Linked DNA regions of Homo sapiens: region 2 is linked to region 1. The links come from fine-mapping of genetic effects on gene expression. A gene starts in region 1. The other region holds a variant in brackets. All regions are shown on one strand. Distances are between the middles of the regions.

What was found. PIP is the estimated chance that this variant, and not a neighbour inherited with it, causes the effect.
Region 2: its variant is the best candidate, but not a certain one, in a credible set for the expression of G3BP2 in whole blood (INTERVAL, PIP 0.86).

What each region holds. Positions count from the first base shown.
Region 1 is chr4:75,671,671-75,674,586 of GRCh38, forward strand. G3BP2 (G3BP stress granule assembly factor 2) reads right to left here and starts at 1,741. Exons shown (of 12, transcript NM_203505.3): 1 at 1,538-1,741. RefSeq lists enhancers at 621-1,598, 1,031-1,270, 1,551-1,840, 2,577-2,916.
Region 2 is chr4:75,617,155-75,620,070 of GRCh38, forward strand. The region is part of intron 2 of CDKL2 (cyclin dependent kinase like 2); the gene reads right to left. Among named protein-coding and RNA genes, the nearest start is that of CDKL2, 12 kb to the right of the region's middle. The variant A/T (reference allele first, on the strand shown) is at 1,436.

The DNA.
Region 1 (2,916 bases):
CAATTCCTTGACTGCTTTTCAGAATTAGTTTGTAAAGATTAAATCATAACATAAAGGCCCATAAGAGTAATCTTAAACATTTAAGAAAAATGTTACTGCCAAAGAAAGGATAATTCAATCCTGAGGTTCAAACTCATCGTACCGTTTATCTCCTAAGACCAGGAATCTTGGATTATCAAAAAGACCACTGGATGCTAACAGGGCCAAAAGTTTACTTAGAAACTTGGTTCACATGCCTAAGGCTATATTAACTGCCAAATATGGAGCTAGAGAAAAATTGCCATCATCTCCCACTCTAGTACACCGGGGCTCTCTTAACGACAGTTAATGTTTCCTAGATCCAGGTACCTGCAACACTAACGTTTGAAAGACCAGAACAAGGTACAGAGCCTTGAACCTAAAACCACAGTATCTTAATCCAAGTTAATATCCCACAACAATCATACAGGGAGAACAGGACTTTACTATTCCAGCTAAAAGTGCAAGTGCCTTTTTTTTGTTGTTGTTATGAAGGAAAAGGCACTCTCCTCCCACCCCCCAAATCCGTTAGAACATTAAGTATGTCTTGGGGAAAAAAGCTGATCTATGCAGGAAATTATAGACGAAAATCTATATTCGCCCCAAAGCGGCAAAGGGCCATCTTAAGAAATCTGCTTTTAGAGACGCAGGAAAAATTCTATCAGATTCCACTAACAAAATCAACACAATCTAGGGAAGCTTCTGTTCCTTTCTGTCCCCCCATCCCAACAAAAGCGGGAACCCATCCCCCAAAAGCCATTCCCGAGTCAATAAGGGATCGTCTGCATAAGAGGGGGACGAAGAAGGCGCACGTTACAGTTCCAGTATCCGAACACGTTCGGATTAAACCCGCGGTGGCAGGGAGAGGGGGGTTGGTCAAACACGACGGAACACTAGGTACTGGGTAAGCGAAGCGGCGGCTGCCTTCAAACCCGGATTCTGTTTCCGTGCACAGAAATGGTGCCCGGAGGCCGCCACTTTCGCATCTGCGTCGCTTCTGCCTCCGTCGACACAACCTCTTTTCCCCTCCCCCCACGGGCGGGGTGGCGACGGCCTCTCCGCTCCGAAGGAACAAGGTACAAGAGCCGAAAACGATTCGGAAACAGGAACGGTGGGCTACCCACCCTAAAACATCCCCTCCAGAAAGCCTGCTCCCACACTTCCTGTATTAAGCTTCCATCAGCGCGCCTTCGGGAGCTGCTGCGTGCCTCCCCCCCCACTTCGCCACCTCATCCCCAATAAACCTCAACCCCACCTGTGCACTCGGAGCCCTCTGCCCGCAAGACGCTCGCGGGTCACCTCCCTTCCCAGGCGGCCTCCCACCCCTCACCTAGAGGAAAGACTGGTCTTCTCTCACGCACACACGGCACCGTAGGGAGCCGGCAAGAACAATGTCTCTGCCGCTACACCTCCGGCTCCCGGGCTCACACACCGGACGATTGCCTCGCGCCGCGGAGCGCGAATGGAATGTCCCTTTCCGACCACCACACCGACCTCCCCTCCCGGCGCCCGTACACACCTCCAGCCAACGGCGGCGGCGGGTACGTCGCGCGGAGGTCAGAAGAGTCGCTGAGGACCGGGTGCGGCGGGTTCTTATTGCTCGCCGCCCCCTTCCTCCGACAACTCGGAAGCCTCGGAAGCCGGAGAGCCGCGAGTTCGTCTGCCTCACAACCACCTCTTCCCGGGCGCCAGGCGCTGCGACGTGCGACAAGGACCACGGACGTCCCGCCCCCTTTGCCACCGCCCCCTCTTATTGTTTTACCCCTGCCGAAAGGGCCAGGGAACCCCCGAGCACAGCGTCAGCCAATCACGCATCTCCTCCAGAGCCGGACCCAACCTTCCCGTGTCCCTCTGCGGAGCACGCGCAGTACGCTGCCGCGCTCGCACACGCTCGCGCCCGGAAAGCCGGGGAACCGGAACCGGCCTAAAGCCAAGATAAGAGTCCGCTGATTTGACGTCACAAGCAGGCTGCCTTTCTCCGGTCCCGAGGCTCCAGCCTTGCCGCCCTTCTTCCTGATCGCGCAAGCGAGAGCTGGTTCGCAGCAACGCAGTGTCTTTTGTAGACTGATATTCTGGTCCTTTTTATTAATGGGAAGGAGGGAATTTAGTAATCTCTCTGAATAGGTGTCTGCAGGTTGCTGCTGTAGACGAGCTTAAAATGCAGCCGGTGATTTCAGCTGTTTGCACACTAAACTCACCTACATTGTTTACTTAACCCATCCTAGGTTTTAAGCCCCATTAAGAGGCCCTGCAGTAAAGGAAGAACATGACGTGGGCTTTACAGAGGGGGAAAAGACTATTTCTTTGTGTCCTTGTTACGAATTTAGGCATGGCTAAATATCAGTAGATACTAAAGCATTTTACATACTAAAGCTAAAAGAAGGCCTGAAATACAAGGATTACAGTCCTGTTCTAGCTCTAAGCCCAGACTTGCCCCCAGGGTGAGACACTGGTGACCTTGTTTCATGGACAAAGCCAAGCCAAATCTTGTAGTCAAGGAAGCCACTTTGCATCTTAGGTCTGGCAGTGTTTTCAGAGAATACCGAGATAGCACAGGAATTTTGGAATGAAGGACTGAGGAAGTGTTCAAAGAAACGGAAAGGAAAAAATACATTAATGAATGCTTACGAACTAAACATGGTGGACGCAAGCATGTACATCTCATCAGTTTTCTTCGCAATCCTGTAAGGGCAATTTTAAGGTATTTGGCATGTTAAGACAATACGTCAAATACCTTAAATATTGGCAGAGGCAATGCCAACATTAGGGCCTCCAAAGTCTACAATATCTTTACCTTTAGACTGCTTAAAGATACTGTTATATGCAAAATATTTGGGCAGACCATCACTTTAATGAAATCAACCTGATGTTTTTCCTTAAAGCATCAAAATACATTAC
Region 2 (2,916 bases), 55 kb before region 1:
TGTAACAAACCTGTACATCCTGCACATGTACCCCTGAACTTAAAAGTTAAAAAAAAACACAAACTTCTACCCTGCCTTCCCTTAAAACAGACATTTTACAATGTAAAAGAAGCGTTGCCAAGAAAAAAATAAAAGTTATAAAAGAGTATGATATTATACATAATAATAACTAATACTTACACAATGCTTACTATGTTCCAGGTACTATTCTAAGCACAAAAGCCTTATGAAATAGGTACAATTATTATCCTGCTTTATAGCTGAAGCAACTAACTCACACAGAGGTCAAGGAACTTGTCCAAGGTCACACAGCAATAACTGGTAGAGGCATGATTAAAACACCTTCTCAAAAAAACCAAAAAAACTAAACAAACCAACAAAAATGCCCCAAAACCCACAAATTTCATATCCTAATGGAACTATAAATTCTGACAAGTTCTATTTTATCAAATTAAGAAATCTAAATAATACTAGAATGTCACTTGTTCCATTGGGCTGTTTTGGCACATTTCTAATAGAAGAAAACATTACACTAAAACTTTTTACTCTTTAAAAATTCACACTATAGCACCAGATAATTTATCTTTCTCTACTCTATGTCAAGTCCTTCTTGCAAAGATTTCCACAGTAGCTCCAAACCTGCAATCATAATTAAAACAGACTATCGGCCGGGCATGGTGGCTCATGCCTGTAATCCCAGCACTTTGGGATGCCAAGGCGGACGGATCACGAGGTCAGGAGTTCAAGATCAGCCTGGCCAAAATGGTGAATCCCTGTCTCTACTGAAAATACAAAAATTAGCCAGGCGTGGTGGCAGGTGCCTGTAGTCCCAGCTACTCAGGAGGCTGAGGCATGAGAATCGCTTGAACCCAGGAGGCGGAGGTTGCAGTGAGCCGAGATCGTGCCACTGCACTCCAACCTGGGCAACAGAGCGAGACTCTGTCTCAAAAAAAAAAAAAAAAAAAGCACAGACTATCAGCTCCACAGGTTCTCTGTCTTTGTGCTTATATTTTTAATGGCAGATGGTTACCTTCTTTGGTAATGGCAGACTGAGTAACTCAGACCAGGCCTCCAATTGAAAATTCTTTTTTTTTTTTTTTTTTTTTTTTTTTTTGAGACGGAGTTTCGCTCTTGTTGCCCAGGCTGGAGTGCAATGGCGCGATCTCGGCTCATCGCAACCTCCTCCGCCTGCCAGGTTCAAGCAATTCTCCTGCCTCAGCCTCCCGAATAGCTGGGATTACAGACATGCGCCACCATGCCCAGCTAATTTTGTATTTTTAGTAGAGACGGGGTTTCTCCGTGTTGGTCAGGCTGGTCTGGAACTCCCAACCTTAGGTGATCCGCCCGCCTTGGCCTCCCAAAGTGCTGGGATTACAAGCGTGAGTTGCCGCGCCCAGCCATTGAAAATTCTTTAAAAGTTGGATTAATTTTCAAA[A/T]AATCTTCTTAAACATATAAAAGGCTAAAACGACAGTGAGGATTACTGGGCTAAAATCAAGAACATGAGAATCCAGAGAGTTAACCTCGGGACTCAAAGCTAATTTTGACATCAAGTAACAAGTGTGGAAATGAGCTTTGATTTTTGTGGCTCCCCAGGGCTAAAAGGGAAAAGCCAAAGTCCAAAAGCCTTCTAAAGGTGGGATATCTGAGAAACCACCTCCAATTAAAGCTAGGACCCAAAAAACTACATCCTCCAGAGTGAAAATGAACAGAAATAAACGAGGCATCACTAGACTTAATTTAACATCACGTTCAAGGAACTAAAAGCCTTGAACATGGATTCACATACTGGACTGGGAGCATCTCCATGTACCTGTCAGAAGCAAATGAATATCACCTCTGGACAAAGAAAACCCTACCTTAGCCTCAAAATATTTCTACAAATAAAATTTCAAAAACAACATTCAATTCTAAAGGATAATGAGAAACACAAGATAAAAAGAGACTATAAGCAAGAACTTTGAACTTACTAAGGAGGTCCTGAGCTGGTAGTGTGCTTGTATCAGACAGAAACCAGAACTGGGAAAATTTTAATGTAAATATTTTTCATTATGAAGGGTAGTTAATTACTAAAGGGGGTAAAAGAAGACTGTAAGGGATATGTTTAAACTAGCAAATACAGGAAGCCCCACTTTTAGGGCTGAAGGAAAATACATAGGGACAAGAAGGAACTAAAAATGTAGAAGAGCCCCCAATAACCACCAGACACATAGTCCTCATTGGAAATGGCCCAGCAGCCACAAAAATCTAAAGATTGCCAATAGTGAAAAAATTCACCAGAGCACACAGGCCAGAGATGGTTTGTAGAGTGGCCAGCAGTTGGTAGAGAAACTCACCAGAATGTGCAGGTAGGCCAGAACTGGTACTTGAAAGATGCTGAAGTGAGCTAACAGACCTCCCACATGGTGATGGGCTCACAGCTGTATAAAAAAAAAAAAAAAAAAAAAAAAAGCACACCAGAAGCTGGAAGAAAAGTCTCTTCCTCTTGCTAAGGACCGACAATGTCTTTCCATGCCCTCTATCTGTTGACAAAACCTAAAATCAAATCAGCGGGCAATAAAAAAGAAATGTTTACAGAGTCCAGTTCTAATATCACAAAGTAGGTAAAAAAAAGGAGTGATTTGGAGTTGAGAGACAATAAATTGATTACTGGCACAGTGCCCATGAACATGGAAGAATGAAATAAAAATTGTCTGTGGAGAAAAATATTTTTACCTTAGCCTCAAATTATTTTTAAAAAGTAATCTTTCAGGACAGGCGTGGTGGCTCCCGCCTATGATTCTAGCATTTGGGTAGGTTGAGGCAGAAAAATTGCTTGAGCTCAGTAGTTTGAGACTAGTCTGGGCAACATTCTGAGACCCTGTCTCCACAAAAAATTAAAAAAATTAGCTGGGCATGGTGGCACATGCCTGTAGTCCA